Regions from separate parts of the Homo sapiens genome. Here region 1 is linked to region 2. The links come from fine-mapping of genetic effects on gene expression. Tissue or cell type: lung. Region 2 holds a variant in brackets; the other region holds the start of a gene. All regions are shown on one strand. Distances are from middle to middle.

Region 1 (9,972 bases), 89 kb after region 2:
CTGAAACTACCCCTTCCCCAGAAGGCTGGGGTCCCAGGCGGGCCTGGCACCTGGGCTCAGAGGCTCTGGCTGGATTTGCCAAACTCCCTGATTGTAGCATGTTTGTTTCTGGTCTGGGGAGCTGTTGAGTACCTGGAGCTGCCCTCTTCCCTGGGGCTCCTCCTGGCAGGCGGCTTCCGACCCTGCCCTCAGGTGGGCTGGCCCTTTCCAGGGCAGGAGAAAAGATACCTCTCCAGAAAAGAGGGAGGCGCAGCCTGGGAGTGGGGGCTCGACCCAGGAGCGAGAAAGAGGAACCCCAGCCAGGCAGGACCCGCCCCAGAAGGTCACTGCTGTTGCTGGCAGCCAGTGAAAAGAGGATCCAGAAAAGGAGAGGGCTTGTTTCTGGTCAGCACCGAAGAAGGAAGGTGTGGAGAGGAGGGGCCGGGCCGAGAGCAAATACCGCCTTTTTGGTGCAGCAGCAGCCCTGTCTCTGACCCCGGCCGTCCTGGGGAGATGAGGTTTAAACCAGCAGACCCTGAAGGGAAACTTGCAGGACCCACAGCAAGCCTGGTACAGGCGGAGGAGGCCTTGCTGTCCCTTTTTGGCCCGTGGGGCTGTCCATCTTAAATTTAAGGAAGAGGGAGGCGGGGTGCAGGGACTCACACCTGTAATCCCAACACTGTGGGAGGTGGAGGCGGGGTGCAGGGACTCACACCTGTAATCCCAACACTGTGGGAGGTGGAGGCGGGAGGATCGCTTGAGCCCAGGGGTTCAAGACCAGCCTAGGCAGCATAGTGAGACCCCATCTCAATTTAATAAATAAATAAGGAAGAAAGAGGGAGACAGTAGCTGCTCAAATCATGGGTGGGAAAGCTGGGCCTGGGAGCGTTTAGCTGGTGGGGTCTTGGCGAAGGCGGGGGACGGGCAGAACCTTGGGTTCATCATCTCTGGGAACCCTTTGTGCACCCATCACCTAGCAACAGGATGCAGCCTTCCCTCCGCCCTGGAAGGCCAGGTCACAAAGGCCATCAGGGCTTGTCCGGGAGCCGGTATCCCCTAAGACTGCCCTGTGCCTCTCGCGGCGATCCCGGCCCAGCGGCTGGGCGTTAGGGCCACCGCTCATGTGCGTCATCTGCTTCGTGAAGGCGCTGGTGCGCGTGTTCAAGATCTACCTGACCGCCAGCTACACCTACCCATTCCGCGGCTGGCCCGTGGCCTTCCGCTGGGATGACGTGCGCGCCGTGGGCCGGAGCAGCAGCCACCGGGCGCTGACCTGCGCGGCAGCCGCGGCGGGCGTGTGGTTGCTGCGGGACGAGACGCTGGGCGGGGATGCGCTGGGGCGGCCTCCACGTGGGGCGCGCAGCCAGGCGCAGTGCCTCTTGCAGCAGCTCCGCGAGCTGCCCGGCCAGCTCGCTAGCTACGCGCTGGCCCACTCGCTGGGCCGCTGGCTCGTGTACCCCGGCTCCGTGTCCCTGATGACGCGCGCGCTGCTGCCGCTGCTGCAGCAGGGCCAAGAGCGCCTCGTGGAGCGCTACCACGGCCGGCGCGCCAAGCTGGTGGCCTGTGACGGCAACGAGATCGACACTATGTTCATGGACCGCCGCCAGCACCCGGGCAGCCACGTGCACGGGCCGCGCCTCGTCATCTGCTGCGAAGGCAACGCGGGCTTCTACGAGATGGGCTGTCTGTCTGCACCGCTCGAGGCCGGCTACTCCGTGCTGGGCTGGAACCACCCCGGCTTCGGCAGCAGCACTGGCGTGCCCTTCCCTCAGCACGACGCCAACGCCATGGACGTGGTGGTCGAGTACGCACTGCACCGCCTGCACTTCCCGCCCGCGCACCTGGTGGTCTACGGCTGGTCTGTTGGCGGCTTCACGGCCACCTGGGCCACCATGACCTACCCGGAGCTGGGTGCACTGGTGCTGGACGCCACCTTCGACGACCTTGTGCCGCTGGCGCTGAAGGTCATGCCCCACAGTTGGAAGGGGCTGGTGGTGCGCACCGTGCGCGAGCACTTCAACCTCAACGTGGCCGAGCAGCTGTGCTGCTACCCGGGGCCGGTGCTGCTGCTCCGACGCACGCAGGATGACGTGGTCAGCACTTCGGGCCGCCTGCGCCCCCTGTCACCTGGTGACGTGGAGGGCAACCGGGGCAATGAGCTGCTGCTGCGCCTGCTGGAGCACCGCTACCCCGTCGTGATGGCGCGAGAGGGCCGCGCCGTCGTCACCCGCTGGCTGCGCGCTGGCAGCTTGGCGCAGGAGGCCGCCTTCTATGCACGCTACCGCGTGGACGAGGACTGGTGCCTGGCGCTGCTGCGCTCCTACCGTGCACGCTGCGAAGAGGAGCTGGAGGGCGAGGAGGCCCTGGGGCCACACGGACCCGCCTTCCCATGGCTGGTGGGCCAGGGCCTGAGCTCGCGGCGGCGCCGGCGCCTCGCACTGTTCCTGGCTCGGAAGCACCTCAAGAACGTGGAGGCGACTCACTTCAGCCCTCTGGAGCCTGAGGAGTTTCAGTTGCCCTGGCGGCTGTAACCTATATGCCCCAGTGGGGGATCACGCACTTGAACTCCTGGCCTTCTTGGTTCACCTCCCCATACCGCCAACCATTGCAGGGGGCCGGCGCCGACGCGGGGCGGGGCGGGGGGGGGCGCGCGGGGTGCTCCTGATCTGCTGTCTGGGGGAGGGTAGGCAGAACACGGGGACTTGGTGCTCTCCTTCCTTCACAGGGGCGTTCTGACCGTCCTCCCATTCTTCCTAGCTCTGTCCCCTCCTTTCTCTCTTCCTCCTACAAATACTTTTGGCTGCCCCCACCCAGCTCCTAAGGGAATGAAAGGTTAACCTGACCCGGTTTATGGCAATACTGTGTGATGGGTGCCTTGATCACCACAAAAGGATGATGGGAACGGGGCTGTGGGGTCCCAGGGAGGAGCCCTTCACCTGGCCTGGGTTACAGGATGGCTCCTGGGAAGACAATGCCAGCTGTGCGCTGAAAGTCTGTGCAAGCTGCTCCCGTGAAAAGGAGGACATTGGCATGGCAGGGCTGTGGGCAGGTCTTAGTGGCTGGACATTCCCAGGAGTTAGCACTGGCTATCATTCTGTAGGGCTCCCTCCCACCTCCAAACTCCTGGCTTCTACACCAGGGCATTCACAGACAGATTGCAGACTCACATGGTGGCATGTGAGGCTACAGATACACTTGCACAGGCCAGAGGATACTACTGCGTGTCCCCTGGAGCCAGGCCTGGGCTGGACTTTGTTCCTGGCTTAGGGATGCAACACAGAATGGGACAAGGCCTCTGCTCACAATGGTCTGTAATGTCACATCTCTGTGGTCTGCCCTGAACTGCCTGAAGCAGGGACTATTGTCCCTACATGTCCCTAGTCCCCGGGCTGGCCTGGTTGGGTTGAGCAAGAATCTCTGGAAAGAATGAAAGGCAGCAAATGGAGAAAACATTACTGAGAGCACGAGAGCAGGCTAAGGCCGTGGTGGTAAGGGACTCGGGCCTGTGCAAGAGTACCAGGAAGACACCTGTGGGAGGAGGTGGCCGGGTGAAGGAAGGGGCAGTGGGAGGAGCTTCCATGCCTAGGGACCAGTACCACCCCAGGCTGGAAGCCCAGAGTGGAGTCCTAGGACATCAGATCCTAAAGGGCTTGAATACCGTTTAAGGCTTTTCTTCCGGGAGCAAGTAGGAGCCAAAGAAGGGAAGTTGCGGGACTTGTTTTCGTGGGGCCAGTTGCCTGGTGGTTACGCGCCTCTCCTCTGAAGTCAGGCATCCTGTTCCAGAGTATCCTGGTTGCGCTTCAACTTGCGGAGTGACCTGGGGCAAGTGACTTTAACCTCAGCTTCCTCATCTGTGGAGTGGGGAGGGCGCAGCGCTGGTCGCCCTGAACAGGAAGTGAGACAACCTCGGGGTGCACACGCGCAGGCCCGAGCCGCAGGGTCCACGCCCGAGGCGAGGCGGCAGCGGCGCCTGCAGGGCGAGGGGACGAATCGCGATCTTTTTCAGAGTAACCCGCGTACAATAAAAAGTCCCCATGAAAAGGACAAACTAGCCAGGCGTGAGGGGCGGTGGCTCACGCCTGTAATCCCAGCACTTTAGGAGGCCGAGGCGGGTGGATCACCTAAGGTCAGGAGTTCTAGACCAGCCTGGCCAAGGTGGCGAAACCCCCGTCTCTACTACAAATACGAAAATTAGCCGGACGTGTTGGCGCGCGCCTGTAATTCCAGCTACTCGGGAGGCTGAGGCTGGAGAATCGCTTGAACCCGGAGGGCAGAGATTGGAGTGAGCTGAGATCGCGCCATGGCACTCCAGCCTGGGCAACAAGAGTGAAACTCCGTCTCAAAAACAAACAAAAAAGGACCAACTAAAAAAAGAATATAAATACAATAAATAACAGGACTTACGGGGGCAGGCTGACCCCTAAAGTAAGGGGTCGGGCTGGAAAGGATCTCAAGGGGTCAGAGTTTGAGCCGCCGAGGCGCGCGAGCCCCAGCACTCCTAGGCAGCTGCATCCGCCCCGGAAGATCCCCTGGGGCCCTGCGCTGGCTTTCCACAGCGCCATGTTGGACGGTCCTCCCACTTCCCACCTTCCCAGTCCTCCCGCTACTCTGACCGTTCTACCTGTGATTCTCGCTGGTGGAGTCAACCTGGAATGGATTCCCGCCGAACCACGCCTCCCTTTCCTGGTTCGCCCGCAGTTTCGGCCTATCAGGTTGAGTCGGGTAAACCAGGACGGGCCAAGCGGCACTCTCATTGGATATCACTGGTGGGGGCGGGAAGAAGGCGGAGCACGTGCCCGGGCGGAAGTAGCCGTCGCATCGCGGATTACGAAACGCCGCGGAGCTGAGGCAGTTCCGCTGGCTAGTGTGTACGCGGCGAGCTTCTCCCGGCGCCGCCCGCTCGGCTCCCATAGCGCCCGCGACAGCGGTCCGGACGCCGCCCGAACATGGACTCCGCCGGCCAAGGTACCTGCCGGGCCCGGCCCCTTCGCCGCAGATGGGCCCAGGCTGCCCGTTGTTCTCCGTCTCCCGGGGTCGCGTCTGCGACTCTCTGTCCTCTCGGTCTCGGTTCACCCACCCCGCGGCCCCTCTTCAGCTCCCGGGGCCACTGACCTCGAAGCTTATGATGGTCGTGGTGTGTTTTTTGCCCGCGGCCCAGACCGCTTCCTGGGCTCTCTCCAGCCGCCCTCCTGGTCTCCCCTGGGACCGTTCCGAGGTGTGGTTCCCTGGCGCCCGCCGTTGCTCCCGTAGTTTGGGTTCTGTCGCTCCCAGCAGGTCTCGCTTATGCCGCCCACCCCGTGCCCTGCTCTTGCTTGCTCTGCCACCCCCCGGTCCCTGCGCGGGGCCCTCGGGTTCACGCTGTCTGGCCCTGGACCCAGTCCGAGGTGTTGAGGGCGGCTCCCGAGCAGAGAAGGGGTCTTCGCGTTCAGCAGAGCTCCCCTTGGGCAGCAACTCTGCTCGGAGCTCAGCCTGCTTAGGGGTTGCCTCATGGAGAGGGGGTGGAGTGAGTCAGGGGCACACCCAGCATACCAGGCCTGTTTCCAGAACAGTCTCCCCAGAGCAGTATGAGATGGCCACTGAGGGGCGTGGAGCGAGCCCAGGAGATTAAAATCTTGAGAAGATGATAAAAGTCTGCCTTGCATTTTGGGGCTCTAGAGAGGGATGCTAAATTTCTTTCTTTCTTTCTTTCTTTCTTTATTTTTTTGAGACGGAGTCTTGCTCTGACGCCAGGCTGGAGTGCAGTGGCGCGATCTCAGCTCATTGCAACCTCGACCTCCCGGGTTCAAGCGATTCTGCTGCCTCAGCCTCCTGAGTAGCTGGGACTACAGGCACGCGCCACCAGGCCCAGCTAATTTTTGTATTTTTAGTAGAGGCAGGGTTTCACCATGTTGCCCAGGATGGTCTCGATCTCTTGACCTTGTGATCCGCCCGCCTCAGCCTCCCAAAGTGCTGGGATTACAGGCGTGAGCCACTGTGCCCGGCTACATATTAAGCTTTATAATTCCTAGGTGCTGCATTATTCTGGAGGGTGTTTTTTGTTTGTTTGTTTTTGTTTTTTTGAGATGGAGTCTCACTCTGTCGCCCAGGCTGGAGCGCAGTGGCTAGATCTCGGCTCACTGCAAGCTCCGCCTCCCGGGTTCACTGCCATTCTCCTGCTTCAGCCTCCCAACTAGCTGGGACTACAGGCGCCCGCCATCATGCCCGGCTAATTTTTTGTATCTTTAGTAGAGACGGGGTTTCACTGTTAGCCATGACGGTCTTGATACCCTGACCTCGTGATCTGCTTACCTCGGCCTCCCAAAGTGCTGGGATTACAGGCGTGAGCCACCGCGCCTGGCCTTTTTTTTTTTTTTTTTTAATTTTTTTTTTGGGGACAGCGTCTCCCTCTGTCTCCCAGGCTGGAGTGCAGTGGTGCAATCATAGCTTACTGCAATCTTCAACTCCTGGGCTCAAGCGATCTTCCTGCGTCAGCCTCCCAGGTAGCTGGGACTATAAGACTACAGGCGCACCATGCCAGGTTAATTGGTCTTTCTACTTTTTTTTTTTTTTTTGAGACGGATTTTCGCTCTTGTTGCCCACGCTGCAGTACAATGGCGCGATCATGGCTTCCCGCAACCTCTGCCTTCTGGGTTCAAGCGATTCTCCTGCCTCAGCCTCCCGTGTAGCTGGCATTACAGGCGTGCGCCACCATGCCCGGCTAATTTTGTATTTTTAGTAGAGATGGAGGTTTCTCCATGTTGGTCAAGCTGGTCTCGAACTTCTGACCTCAGGTGATCTGCCCGCCTTGGCCTCCAAAAGTGCTGGGATTACAGGTGTGAGCCATTGTGCCCAGCCTCATTTGTCTTTTTTTAAATAGAACAGAAAGGCTGGGCTCGGTGGCTTACGCCTGTAATTCTAACACATTGGGAGGCCGAGGCCAGTGGATCACTTGAGGTCAGGAGTTTGAGACCAGCCTAACCAACGTGCCAAAACCCCGTCTCTACTAAAAATAAAAAAATTAACCGGGCATGGTGGTGTGCTCCTGTAGTCCCAGCTACTTGGGAGGCTGAGGCAGGAGAATCGATTGAACCCAGGAGGTGGAGGTTGCAGTGAGCGGAGATCGTGCCACTGCACTCCAGCCTGGGTGACAGAGTAAGACTCGTCTAAAAAAAAAAAAAAGAGAATCAGTGGATAAAAAAGTGGATACGCTTCGTTTAGTAAGCGTTTGTGGAGCGCCAAGGAAGTGCACACGGCTCCAGTCCTATGGGACATTTGAAGGGAGTGAGATGCAGCCAGCTTTTAAGAAGAGTATCTTTGTTAAGTGCATTTAATCTGGTGTCTTTGTGTTGTCTTTTAAAAGGCATAGTTTTTTTTTCTTTTTCTTTTCTTTTGTTTTTTTTTTTTGAGACAGTCTCAAAAAAAAGAGACGGGGTTTCACCATATTGGCCAGGCTGGTCTTGAACTCCTGACCTCAGGTGATCCGCCCGCCTCAGCCTCCCAAAGTGCTGGGATTACCGGCATGAGCCACCCCGCCCGACCAGTTTTTCTTTTTTTTTTTAAAGAATTTTTTTTTGGCCGCGCGTGGTGGCTCAACGCCTGTAATCTCCCGGGTTCAAGTGATTCTCCTGCCTCAGCCTCCCAAGTAGCTGGGAACTACAGGCGCGTGCCACCACGCTAACTAATTTTGTATTTTTAGTAGAGACGGGGTTTCACCATTTTGGTCAAGCTGGTCTCGAACTCCTGACCTCATGTGATCCACCTGCCTCGGCCTCCAAAAGTGCTGGGATTATAGGCATGAGCCACTGCGCCTGGCAGTAAGCCTGTTTCTTTTCAGAATGTTTTGGTCAACAGGGAAAGTGTTACAATAGTCATGTGCTTGGATTTGGAGAGAATCGAAATAGACTGTTTTTCTTTATGTGAAATCTTGTAGACTTTTAGGGTAGTCAGGAAGATGCATTTGACATGAAGAAAAAACAGTGGCTGCAGGAATTTGAATGTGATCTGGGTGTAGTTGAGGTGTGTGGTGGCAGCACACCGCTCTGCACCTCTCTGCCTGCTGGCGGCCTTCTGGCAGTGGGATGAGAATCGGGAGGTAAGTAAAGGGAATTTTGTTTTGCTGCCTCCCTGAAGGAGCTGAATGAGCAGCATGTGCTCCTAGTACGTAATTTTAGCATGTGCTCTGTCAGATGTGTTGAGAGGAAAGTGATGCTTATTGTGTATATTAACCATATTAGGTTCCTTTTTTTAAAAAAAGTGGAAATTTGTCAGGGTATGGTGGCTCACACCTGTAATCCCAACACTTTGGGAGGCCAAGGCGGGCGGATCACCCGAGGTCGGGAATTGGAGACCAGCCTGGCCGACATGACGAAACCCCGTCTCTACTGAAAATACAAAAATAGCCAGCGTGGTGGCGTGCGCCTGTAATCCCAGCTACTCGAAGGCTGAGACAGGAGAATCACTTGAACCCGGGAGACGGAGGTTGCAGTGAGCTGAGATCGCACCATTGCACTCCAGCTTGGGAGGCAGAGTGAGACTCCATCAAAAAAAAAAGGTGGAAGGTCTGTTAGATTGAGCTGCTTTCTCTGTAGCAAGGGTTTCCTGCCTCTGACGATAGTATTCTCACTGGGAAGCCAGAATTCGGGTTTGCCTGCCTTGGGCCGGCATTTGTCGTGCCCTGAAGCAGCACAAGTGGCATTGGCTTTTCAGCTCAGGTGGTCTGAGGTGTGGCTGCCCTCGTCTACTGCCCATGCTGTCCTCACAGACCTTTCAGAGAAGAGGTGTTAGTCTCCAGGGTCTCACCCACTCCCACCTGTGCTTTTGTCCTGCTAGAGACCTCTACCGTATTTACTTGGAACTAACTTATTTGACACTTTGTGGCCTCATTTTGTCTCTGGCAGATATCAACCTGAATTCTCCTAACAAAGGTCTGCTGTCTGACTCCATGACGGATGTTCCTGTCGACACAGGTGTGGCTGCCCGGACTCCTGCTGTTGAGGGTCTGACAGAGGCTGAGGAGGAGGAGCTCAGGGCTGAGCTTACCAAGGTGCTGTGGCTTGGCTGTCTGTCCTGGGGTGAATTGGAGTTAAGGCCCTCTTGGATTAGTGAGAGGCCAGGGTACTGGCCACGCTCGGGAGGAATTGCCCTGGGTGGTCACCTACCCTGCTCTGTGTTCCGACTGATAACGGGGTTCTCTTTGTATGTGCCCAGCTCCATGCACTGGACTCAGAGCCACCTGGCAGTGGAGACAGGGCATGACTCCCTTCCCATACCTCTGTGCCTGGCCCTTCCTAAGTGCTCCCTGAGGAGTGTTCACACATGAACCGCCTCTGAGCAGCCATCTGCTGGGAGTGTCTCTGTTGGAATTAACACTTGATAATCATTTTTAAGACCCCATGAATCTTTCTTGTCCTGGATCTTAAGTTTTCTTTTAAACATATTTATTTTGGCTGGATGCAGTGGCTCATGCCTGTAATTCCAGCGCCTTAGGAGGACAGGGTGGTAAGGTGGGAAGATCACTTGAGCCCAGGAGTTTGAGAGCAGCCTGGGCAACACAGTGAGACCTTGTCTCTACCCCCAAAAATTAGCCAGGTGTGGTGGCATGTGCCTGTAGTCCCAGCTACTCAGGAGGCTGAGGTGAGAGGATTGCTTGAGGCCAGGAGGTCAAGGCTTCAGTGAGCTGTGATTGCATCCTGCACAGCAGCCTGGGTGACAGGGCGAGACCCTGTCTCAAAAACAAAACAAAAACTTCTTTTCTAAAAAGTATTTATGTGATCTTCTTTAAGTGAGAGTCCCTTAAGAGTAATGTAGGAATTAAGAACAAAAGCCTCCAACCATAATTTTTAGTCAAACCAACTGCCAAGAGTTTTCTTTTCACCCTGTGATGTGGTTTAATTCCAGAATCTGGGTCCAGGCCTAGGTCTGAGTAAGGTTGGTTGTGCCGCTGAGTCTGAGGACCAGGTTTCAGATCCTGAGGACATCACACAGCTATTTCTAGCCTAGAAGATTAAAGGAGAG
Region 2 (9,972 bases):
ACGGGACCACCTGTCGGGGACAGAAGGCCTACGGCAGTGAGGGAGGACCACAGAACTTTGGAAAATCCAAGTTTTTTCTGAGTATTTCCATTATTTACCTCAGTGCATGCCGGAAACAGGCAGGGGCCACACAGGATGCCAGAAAATTACGTTTTAAAATAACCTGTCCCCCGCCGAGTTCTACAGCCACTCTGCTGGGCAGGCGTCTGGGGCATCCAGTTCACAGCCCGACAGGCGAAGGATGCTGACAACTTCTAAACCGTGTTTACAGAAAACAAAAGGGCAAATTCTTTTTTTTTTTTTTTTCTGACGAGTTTCGGTCTTGTTGCCCAGGTTGGAATGGCATGATCTCGGCTCACGGCAACCTCCTCCTTCCAGGTTCAAGCGATTCTCCTGCCTCAGTCTCCCAAGTAGCTGAGATTACAGGTGCCCGCCACCACACCCGGGTAATTTTTTGTATTTTTAGTAGAGACAGGGTTTCGCCATGTTGGCCAGGCTGGTCTTGAACTACTGACCTCAGGTGATCCACCTGCCTTGGCCTCCCAAAGTGCTGAGATTACAGGTGTGAACCATCATGCCTGGCCCAAAAGGGCAAATTCTTACAAGAGAAATAGAAAATTTAGAATATTAAAAATGAGGTTAGAACTTAAGAGAAATAACAAAAGACCCACCAGCCAACTTCACCTGGAATTAGTCACAGATGAACTAAAAACTGAGTGAGATGGGGCCAGGCGGGATGGCTCACGCCTATAAACCCGGCACTTTGGGAGGCTGAGGCAGGCAGATCGCCTGAGCTCAGGAGTTCGAGACCAGCCTGGCCAACATGGTGAAACCCTGTCTCTACTAAAAATATAAAAATTAGTGGGGTGTGGGGGCACCCATCTGTAGTCCCAGCTACTTGGGAGGCTGAGGCAGGAGAATTGCTGGAGCCCGGGAGGCAGAGGCTGCAGCGAGCTGAGATAGTGCCAATGCACTCCAGCCTGGGCAAGAGAGCGAGACCCTGTCTCAAAAACACACACACACACACACACACACACACACACACACACACACACAGAAGTGCGGGGTGTGCCCTCACCCCACCTTCAGGATTTAGGACACACTCAGGATGCAGAGGACACAGCACTCTCACTGCAGGGAGAGGCCCTGGGAAAAAGCCAGAACCACTCAAGGTCCCAGCCTCAGGCTCCGCGGCCACTCCCTCCACGTGCTCCGGGGCTCGCTTCCGGAAAGGAGGGGCCCAGAACAGAAAAGCCCCGAGGAAGGGGAGAAACTGCCAGGGCCACCAAGGCCGAGCTGGGGTATGTGTTCCCCAAGGTCAGACCTGGCACCACAGGGCCCACAGCTCGTATGCCACGGGTGAAATCGACATCTTCTGCCAAGCCGTGCCCTCCGACCCCATCTGCTGCACACACAAACCAGCAAAGGCTTCATGGACGGAGCCACACCCAGGGAGGGCTGTCAGACGCAGAAACAGTAGAAAAAGCACAAACAAATTGTTTCCCCTCAGTCCAATGGCTTTTTTTTTTTTTTTTGAGACAGTGTCTCACTCTGTCACCCAGGCTGGAGGGCAATGATGCAATCATGGCTCACTGCAGCCTCAACCTCCTGGGCTCAAGCGATCCTCCCACCTCAGCCGCCTGAGTAGCTGGGACTACGGGCACAAGGCACCATCATGCTGGGCTAACTTCTTGTAGGGATGGGGTTTCCCCACGTTGCCCAGGCTCCCAAAGTCGTTCTTAATGACCAAGACACACCAGCTGTACCTGGGGTGCTGCAAAGGAACTGGGTGTGTTGGGGTCCCTGCCCTGAATGAGTGTATACGACGGTCTGAGAGATCCACAGGAAACAGCACCCAAGCCCCTCATGTGAAAAGGCGCTCGGAGGGGAGGGTAGTGAGGGAGGCCTGGGATCCCCCTCCGACGGCACCCACGGGCATGTGCCACCGGCCGCACCCAAGCTGCTCATGTGAAAAGGCGGTCGGAGGGGAGGGTAGTGAGGGAGGCCCGGGATCCCCCTCCGACCGCACCCACGGGCATGCGCCGCTGGCCGCACCCAGCCTGTCCCTCCTGACGCCCACGAAACGTGCCCAGCGCTCCATCTGACCGGCTGGCCGACTGCAGGATGCCCACATGCCCTGCCACCGCCTCCTGGAAAGGCCCCAGTACCCCGGGGTTTGCTCAAATCCAACCATTTCTGCTGACAAGTACACTTTTGCATTTGAGAGGGGACGGGGCCAACATCTTGGAGCATAAATCACAAACACTCTGCCTGCACCGTGTTTGATATTTTAGAAACGCTATTTTGTTTGAATTCACAACAGCTGTGTAAGTGGCACCCCCCGCCCCCCCCCCCCCCCCCAGTTTTTCAGATGTGGGAAGTGAGGCCTCAGGATGTCTGTGACAGCCCAGCACCCACAGCTTGTCCCGTCTGTGCAGTGCTCAGCCCTGAGCCTCACTTTCAGGGCCAAGACCCTTCGACGGACACGGCTCCTCACTGAGTACACGGAATAAAGGGAAGGTGAACACCACTTTCCACATGTAGTCTTTATTACCCACAAACAGTTGGCATCAGTGCTCACACCAACGCGAAAATTCGAAAGAATATTTTAGTGCTTATGAAAACAAAGTTGTAAAAATATTGTTTTTTAGAGCAGCGTAAAGAAACAGAGAAACAGATATACTTCCCAAATCCCAGCATCAAGGACAGCTGGCACGTTTCCTTCCTTCACTTCCCTCAATACTCAGCAAACAATGTGTCCACACCACTCAGCACGCCTGGACCCCAGCCGCGGAGGTGGGGGCATCTCATGCCGGACTCGCTCCCTCCTCCCCTGGAGAGAAACGGGAGGCGCCTCACTCACTCTCAGCCGCATGCTGAGTGCCAGCTATGTGCTAGGTGCCAGCACCAGGCCTTGCCCGGGGGCCCACATGAGCGCGAGACCAGAAGGCAGCTGGCTGGGGGCTGGCTGCGGTGGGTTTTTTTTGTTTTTTTTTTTGTTTTTTTTTTTGAGACAGAGTCTCCCTCTGTCGCCCCGGCTGGAGTGCAGTGGCGCGATCTCGGCTCACTGCAAGCTCTGCCTGCCGGGTTCACGCCATTCTCCTGCCTCAGTCTCCCGAGTAGCTGGGACTACAGGCGCCCGCCACCACGCCCGGCTAATTTTTTGTATTTTTAGTAGAGACGGGGTTTCACCGTGTTGGCCAAGATGGTCTCGATCTCCTGACCTCGTGGTCTGCCCGCCTCAGCCTCCCAAAGTGCTGGGATTGCAGGCGTGAGCCACCGCGCCCGGCCCCTTTGTTTTTTTAAACTCCGAAAGCTGAATGCCCCCGTCTTGTCAGGAAGTCAGTCAGTCTGGGGTGAGCCCGACACGCAGCAGTGGCTGAACTTTTGGCCACATCTCGGCAGGCGCGTCGTCGTTTGGATTCAGCTGGGGACATTTACGTTTTAAAGACAACCTCCGACGCATCTTTAAAAGTCACACGCCACCAGCATCATCCAGCGAAGGCAACGCAAGGCGAGGCCCCCAAGTGCAATCGGCTCGCAGCGGCCGCCCCCATCTCCCTTGCGCGAAACGAGCCTCAGCACGAAGGCGACAGAGGGGCCGGCAGGGGGCGCCCGAGCCCGTCTCTGGAGCACAAAGACCCCCGGCCCCTGCGCGACCCGGACGAGCTCGCATTCAGCCAACGACTCCTGTGAGAAACATTCCAGCAAGCACTCGGCTGCTCCCCTGCCCGCCGCGCTCACAACCGCGTCCATTCCCTCCTCACTCTAAAGCCAGCCCCCCGTGCACCTGAGAGGCCAGTCCAGGCTGTGACGCCGCATCCTCACCTCCCGCAACAGGGAGGTCAGCAGGCGGCCGAGCAGCAGGGACAGACCCTCAGCCTCATCTCATCTTGGCCCGGGACCTGCAACCCTCAGCCTTCAAAACCACACCAAAGCCAAGCGGCCCCCAGGGCCTGCACTTACGGGACAGCGAGTGGGCCCCTCTGGGCAGGTACTCGAACAGCAGGGAGCCGTCATCCCCCAGCACGTCGGCCTTCAGCGACAGCAGGCTGTTCTTACTCATGAGCGCCGCGCGCAGGTTGGCCACCGCGGTGGCCTGATGCAGGGCGTCGTCCTTCTCTGGGGTGAGGGGAGGGCCCAGATAGCTGGCTTCTCCTCCCAGGAGACCCTCCTCCACCTGTGCATAGAGCTCGGCCCTCTCTCCTCGGCTGTCGGAGCTGCTGGCTTCGGTGACGGACAGGTCCGCATCTGGGGACAGAGGGACACACGTCAGAAGACACGGGTCGTTCCCAGACTCTCCAAGTGGGACAGGCGACACATTTAGAAGGACAGCGACCAGCTTCTGCCTGAGCTACAGAGCAGCATCAAGTCCAGCCCACCCTGGGAGCCGGGCACCTGCCCCAGCAATGCAGCAGCCTCGGCCCAGCCCGGCCTTTCCTGCCCACCCAGGTCCCATGGCTGCGGTGGAGTCTCAGCCAAGGCTTTGGAGGACGGCTCAACTCAGAACAACGGGGTTGCCCTCCCTGGACGAGGCGCTGCAGACCTGGTACCTGCTCTGCTCCAGGGCCGAGGGCCTGAGAGTCAGAGGCTCCTGGGGCGGCAGTATTTCCATCTCGCAAAGACGAGGAGAGGCTCAAAATGGATCAATGACGTTAGAGCTAAATCTATAAAATTCTTAGAAGAAAATCCGCATGATCTCAGATTTGGCAATAGGTTCTTAGATACAAAACCAAGCACAAGCAACAAAATAAATTGGACTCATCAAAATTAAATGTCTGTGCTTCAAAGGATACTACCAAGAAAGTGACGCCGGGTGCGGTGGCTCAAGCCTGTGATCCCAGCACTCTGGGAGGCCGAGGCGGGCGGATCATCTGAGGTCAGGAGTTCAAGGCCAGCCTGGCCAACATGGTGAAACCCCATCTCTACTAAAAATACAAAAATTAGCCGGGCGTGGTGGCACGTGCCTGTAATCCCAGCTACTCAGTAGGCTGCGGCAGGAGAATCGCTTGAACCCAGGAGGTGGAGGTTGCAATGAGCCGAGATCACACCACTGCACTCTAGCCTGGGCGACAGAACAACGCTCTGTCTCAAAAAAAAAAAAAAATTGCAACCTATATATCTGATAATAAAAAGGCAAATACTGTAACTCAATATAAAAATGGGCAAAAAATCTTACTAGACATTTGTCCAAAGAAGATGTATAAATGGCCAAGACGCACAGGAAGAGATGCTCAGCATCACCCATCACTAAGGAAACGCAAAACACAACACGATTCCACCACACAATACGGTTCCAGCACACGCCACGGTTCCACCACACGCCACGGTTCCACCACACGCCACGGTTCCAGCACACGCCACGGTTCCACCACACGCCACGGTTCCAGCACACGCCACGGTTCCACCACACGCCACGGTTCCAGCACACGCCACGGTTCCAGCACACACCCACTGGGATGGCTGGATATAAAAAGGCCAGGCACCGTGGCTCACGCTTCCAGTCCCAACATTTTGGGAGGCTAAGACCGGAAGATCTATTGAGAACAGGAGTTCAAGACCAGCCTGGGCAACACAGCAGGACAAAAAGTTAAAATAAAACAAAATTAGCTGA[G/A]TGTGGTGGGTTGTGCCTGTGGTCCTAGCTACTCAGGAGGCTGCGGCGGGAGGATCACTTGAGCCTGAGAGGTTGAGGCTGTGGTGAGCTGTGATCGAGCCACTGTACTCCAGTCTGGGTGACAGAGTGAGACCCTATCTCAAAAACAACAACAAAAAAGATCAGATAATATTGGCAAGGATGGGAAGAAATCAGAACCCTGGAACCTTGCTGGTAAGAGTGTAACATGGTGCCCTCCTGCGGAGCAGGTCGGCAGGTCCTCACAACATCAGGTACAGGAATCACCACGGGGCCCAGCAGTTCCACATGTACGCATGCAGATACCCACGAGAAATGAAGACACAAAAGCTCACAGAAAACCTCGTCCAGGACGCGCGTAGCACGTTATCCATAACAGCCAAAAGGTGGAACAGCCAACAAGTCCATCGATGGACGAATGGATAAACATAACAGGTCCATCCCCACAATGGAATATTATGTGGCCATGAAAAGGCATGAAGAACAGACACAGGCCACCACACAGAGGAGCCGTGAAAACATGCTCAGCGGACGAAGCCAGACACAGAACCACGCAGAGGAGCCTTGAAAACTGCTGAGTGAACAAAGCCAGACACAGAAGGCCACATGCCATTTCATTTCCATTAAATATCCAGAACAGGCAAATCAAGACAGAAAGTAGGTTTGTGGCTGCAAAAAGGGGCTGGGGAGGGGTCTCGGATGAGGGCTAAGTGGTGCAGGGTTTCCCTCTGAGCCGAGGAAAATGTTCTAAGGGGACTGTGCTGATGGCTACAGGATGCTGTGAATATACCATACCAAAAACCTCTGAACTGCAGACTTTAAATGGGTGAGTGGGGTGTGAATCATCTCTCAGTAAAGCTTCTATTTAACAACAACAACAAAAACAACAAAAGGTGACGACTTGAGTCATGAATTCAACGGATTCCTCCGAGTGTCAGCTCAGGCCAGCCAGGGCTTTGTGGAGTACCCTCCCTCTAGTGGGGCTGTATGCACGATATCAAAACACCCCCAGAACACGCTGAGCGATGATGATTTGCAGATATTTTCCCACAGCAAGAGAATGGATTTTCCACCGTGGTCGTTGACAGGAATCGGGATCAGAACCACAGAAACACAGGGGCATGGGGCAGGGGGCACTTGGAGCAGGGGCAGAGGTGACGTCTGCAAACACCCCTGGAACAAACATGCACACGTGAGGCCCAGCAGCTGAGAGCTGGGTGTGGCAGGTGGGCAGGGCCCCCGTCAGGCAGCACACGGGGTGAGTCCAGCCTGGCAGGAGCGGGTGGGAGTCTCCAGGGACAGTGACATTCGGACCGTCGAGCTACCTATGACTTCTTCTGGAGGCCTCTAAGGGATATGTTTCCAAACTCTACTCTTTTTCCAAACTATACTCCTTTTTATATTTTTTTACAAATCCCTCGATGACACATCATATTAATTGTGCATTTCTAGGAACTAAATATACAGGTTATATCCAAACTTATGTTAAGGCTTTGTCTTAGCTTGGGATGCCATGACAAAATACCACAGGCAGGGCGGCTTAACAACGAAAATTAGTTTCCTCACGCTCTGGAGACTGGGAAGTCCAAGGTCAAGGTGCCAGCAGATCTGCTGTCTGGTGAGGCCCCTCCTGACCTGCAGATGGCGGCAGGTGAGCCCTGGGGGCCCCTCCTCAGAGTCTGGGAGCAGAGTGGGTGGTGGGTGCTGTGTGCTCACGAGCGTGTTCAGGGATCAGGGCCCCGCCTGTGACTTCACTTTATCACTTCCTTCAAGGCCCTCCCCAGACGCAGCCACACGGGGGCTGGGGTTTCAACACATGAGTGTGGGGGTGCACATTCAGCTCATAACAGGCTTCAAAAAAAATCACCCAATTTTATTTTATTTAATTAATTAATTAATTTATTTATTTATTTTGAGACGGAGTTTCGCTCTTGTTGCCCAGGCTGGAGTGCAATGGCATGATCTCAGCTCACCGCAACCTCCGCCTCCCGGCTTCAAGTGATTCTCCTGCCTCAGCCTCCTGAGTAGCTGGGATTACAGGTGCGTGCCACCACGCCGGCTAATTTTTTTTTTTTTTTTTTTTTTTTTTTTTTTGAGACGGAGTCTTGCTCTGTCACCCAGGCTGGAGTGCAGTGGCATGATCTTGGCTCACTGCAAGCTCCGCCTCCCAGGTTCACGCCATTCTCCTGCCTCAGCCTCCTGAGTAGCTGGGACTACAGGGCGCCTGCCACCACACCTGGCTAATTTTTTGTATTTTTAGTAGAGACGGGGTTTCACCGTGTTAGCCAAGATGGTCTCGATCTCTTGACCTCGTGATTCGCCCCCCTCAGCCTCCGAGAGTGCTGGGATTACAGGCCTGTGAGCCACCGCGCCCGGCCGCTAATTTTTGTATTTTTAGTAGAGACGGGGTTTCACCACATTGGTCAGGCTGGTCTCAAACTCCCAACCTCAGGTGATCTGCCCACCTCAGACTCCCAAAGTGCTGGGATTACAAGCATGAGCCACCATGCCTGGCCAAAATCACCCAATTTTAAAGCCAAATTTTAAATCTAAATTATTGTAACAAATCAAGGTGAAAAACACATAAAAGAAATCAGGATAAGCTGAAAGAACTCTCCCTTGTGTGAAATGCTAAAATTTGGGTTTCCGCCAGGCACAGTGTCTCATGCCTGTAATCCCAGCATTTTGGGAGGCCGAGATGGGTGGATCATGAAGTCAGGAGTTTGAGACTAGCCTGGCCAGCCCGGTGAAACCCCGTCTCTACTAAAATACAAAACATTAGCTAGGCATGGCGGTGCGTGCTTGTAATCTCAGCTACTCGGCAAGCTGAGGCAGGAAAATCGCTTGAACCAGGGAGACAGAGGTTGCGGTGAGCCGAGATCACACCATTGCACTCCAGCCTGGGCAACAAGAGTGAAACTCCATCTCAAAAAAAAAAAAGACAGATAAAAGAAATTCTCATTAATTTTATGTATATAGTAGTTAGCAAGGTAACTCAATGGATAAAAGACAGGTTTCTTAGCAAGCAGCACTGGAACAACCTTATAATCCTATGTAAAAAGTGAACCTCAAGCTGATCTCACGCCACATACAAAAAAACCAACTTGAATCATGGAGCTATGCGTTATACTTAAATTGATAAAAACTCAAGAAAAACCATAGGAGAAAGTCTTTGTTGGCTGGGCACGGTGGCTCATGCCTGTAATCCCAGCACTCTCGGAGGCTGAGGCGGGCGGATCACGAGGTCAGGAGTTCAAGACCATCCTGGCTAACATGGTGAAACCCCGTCTCTACTAAAAATACAAAAAATGAGCCGGGCGTGGTGGCGGGCGCCTGTAGTCCCAGCTACTCGGGAGGCTGAGGCAGGAGAATGGTGTGAACCCAGGAGGCAGAGCTTGCAGTGAGCCGAGATTGCACCACTGCACTCCAGCCTGGGCGACAGAATGATACTCCGTCTCAAAAAAAAAGGATCCTCCTGAAGAGACACTGTTAAATGAAAAAAGGAGGCCATGCACAGTGGCTCACGCCTGTAATCCCAACATTTTGGGAGGCCAAGGCGGGTGGATCATGAGGTCAGGAGTTCAAGACCAGCCTGACCAACATGGTGAAACCCCATCTCTACTAAAAAAAAAAAAAAAAATACAAAAATTAGCTGGGCGCGGTGGCGGGTGCCTGTAATCCCAGCTATTCAGGAGGCTGAGGCAAGAGAATGGCGTGAACCCAGGAGGCAGAGTTTGCAGTGAGCCAAGATGGTGCCACTGCACTCCAGCCTGGGTGGCAGAGCAAGACTCTGCCTCAAAAAAAAAAAAAAAAAAAAAAAGAAAGAAAAAAGGAGCCAAAGGCCAAGAGAAAATATTTTCAAAGCACATACTTGATGAAGGACTTGGAACGAGAACACCTAGGAACTCTCACCACTCAGTAATAAAAGATGGGCAGAAGATCTGAACAGACACTTCCCCAAGGAAGAGACCCAGATGTGGAGCAGGTGCCCGATGCTCATCACCGCCAGCTGAGCCACGACACTCACTCGGCCAGAGCCTCACGGTCACCACGTAGACAGCCCAATCGAAACACGGCAAAAAGACCTGGACAGACACTTTACCAAAAAAGATATATGAATGGCATCATCCGCCATCAAAGAAATGCAAATCAAAGACCATAGAGAAGCCAGGTGTGGCGTCTCACGTCTGTCATGCCAGCACTGTAGGAGGCCGAGGCAGGCGGATCACCTGAGGTCAGGAGTTCGAGACCAGCCTGGCCAACACGGCCAAACCCCGTCTCTACTAAAAATACAAAAAATCAGCCAGGGGTGGTGCTGGGTGATTGTAATCCCAGGTACT

What was found. PIP is the estimated chance that this variant, and not a neighbour inherited with it, causes the effect.
Region 1: TPD52L2 starts here. The variant in region 2 is fine-mapped to the expression of TPD52L2 in lung (TOPMed, PIP above 0.99).

Annotation. Positions count from the first base shown.
Region 1 is chr20:63,860,441-63,870,412 of GRCh38, forward strand. It overlaps TPD52L2 (TPD52 like 2), which reads left to right and starts at 4,830. Exons shown (of 7, transcript NM_003288.4): 1 at 4,830-4,944; 2 at 8,856-9,001. The coding sequence starts at 4,926. It overlaps ABHD16B (abhydrolase domain containing 16B), which reads left to right and starts at 1,058. Exons shown (of 1, transcript NM_080622.4): 1 at 1,058-2,548. The coding sequence starts at 1,101. The coding sequence ends at 2,510. ABHD16B-AS1 (ABHD16B antisense RNA 1) reads right to left here and starts at 4,633. Exons shown (of 2, transcript NR_165314.1): 1 at 4,384-4,633; 2 at 775-3,830. RefSeq lists enhancers at 3,558-3,787, 3,881-5,080, 4,120-4,840, 5,562-6,281 and a silencer at 4,248-4,297.
Region 2 is chr20:63,771,712-63,781,683 of GRCh38, forward strand. ZBTB46 (zinc finger and BTB domain containing 46) reads right to left here. Exons shown (of 5, transcript NM_001369741.1): 3 at 3,967-4,251. LOC124904956 (a long non-coding RNA gene) reads right to left here and starts at 338. Exons shown (of 2, transcript XR_007067720.1): 1 at 99-338; 2 at 1-10. RefSeq lists enhancers at 692-1,608, 6,209-6,746. The variant G/A (reference allele first, on the strand shown) is at 5,615.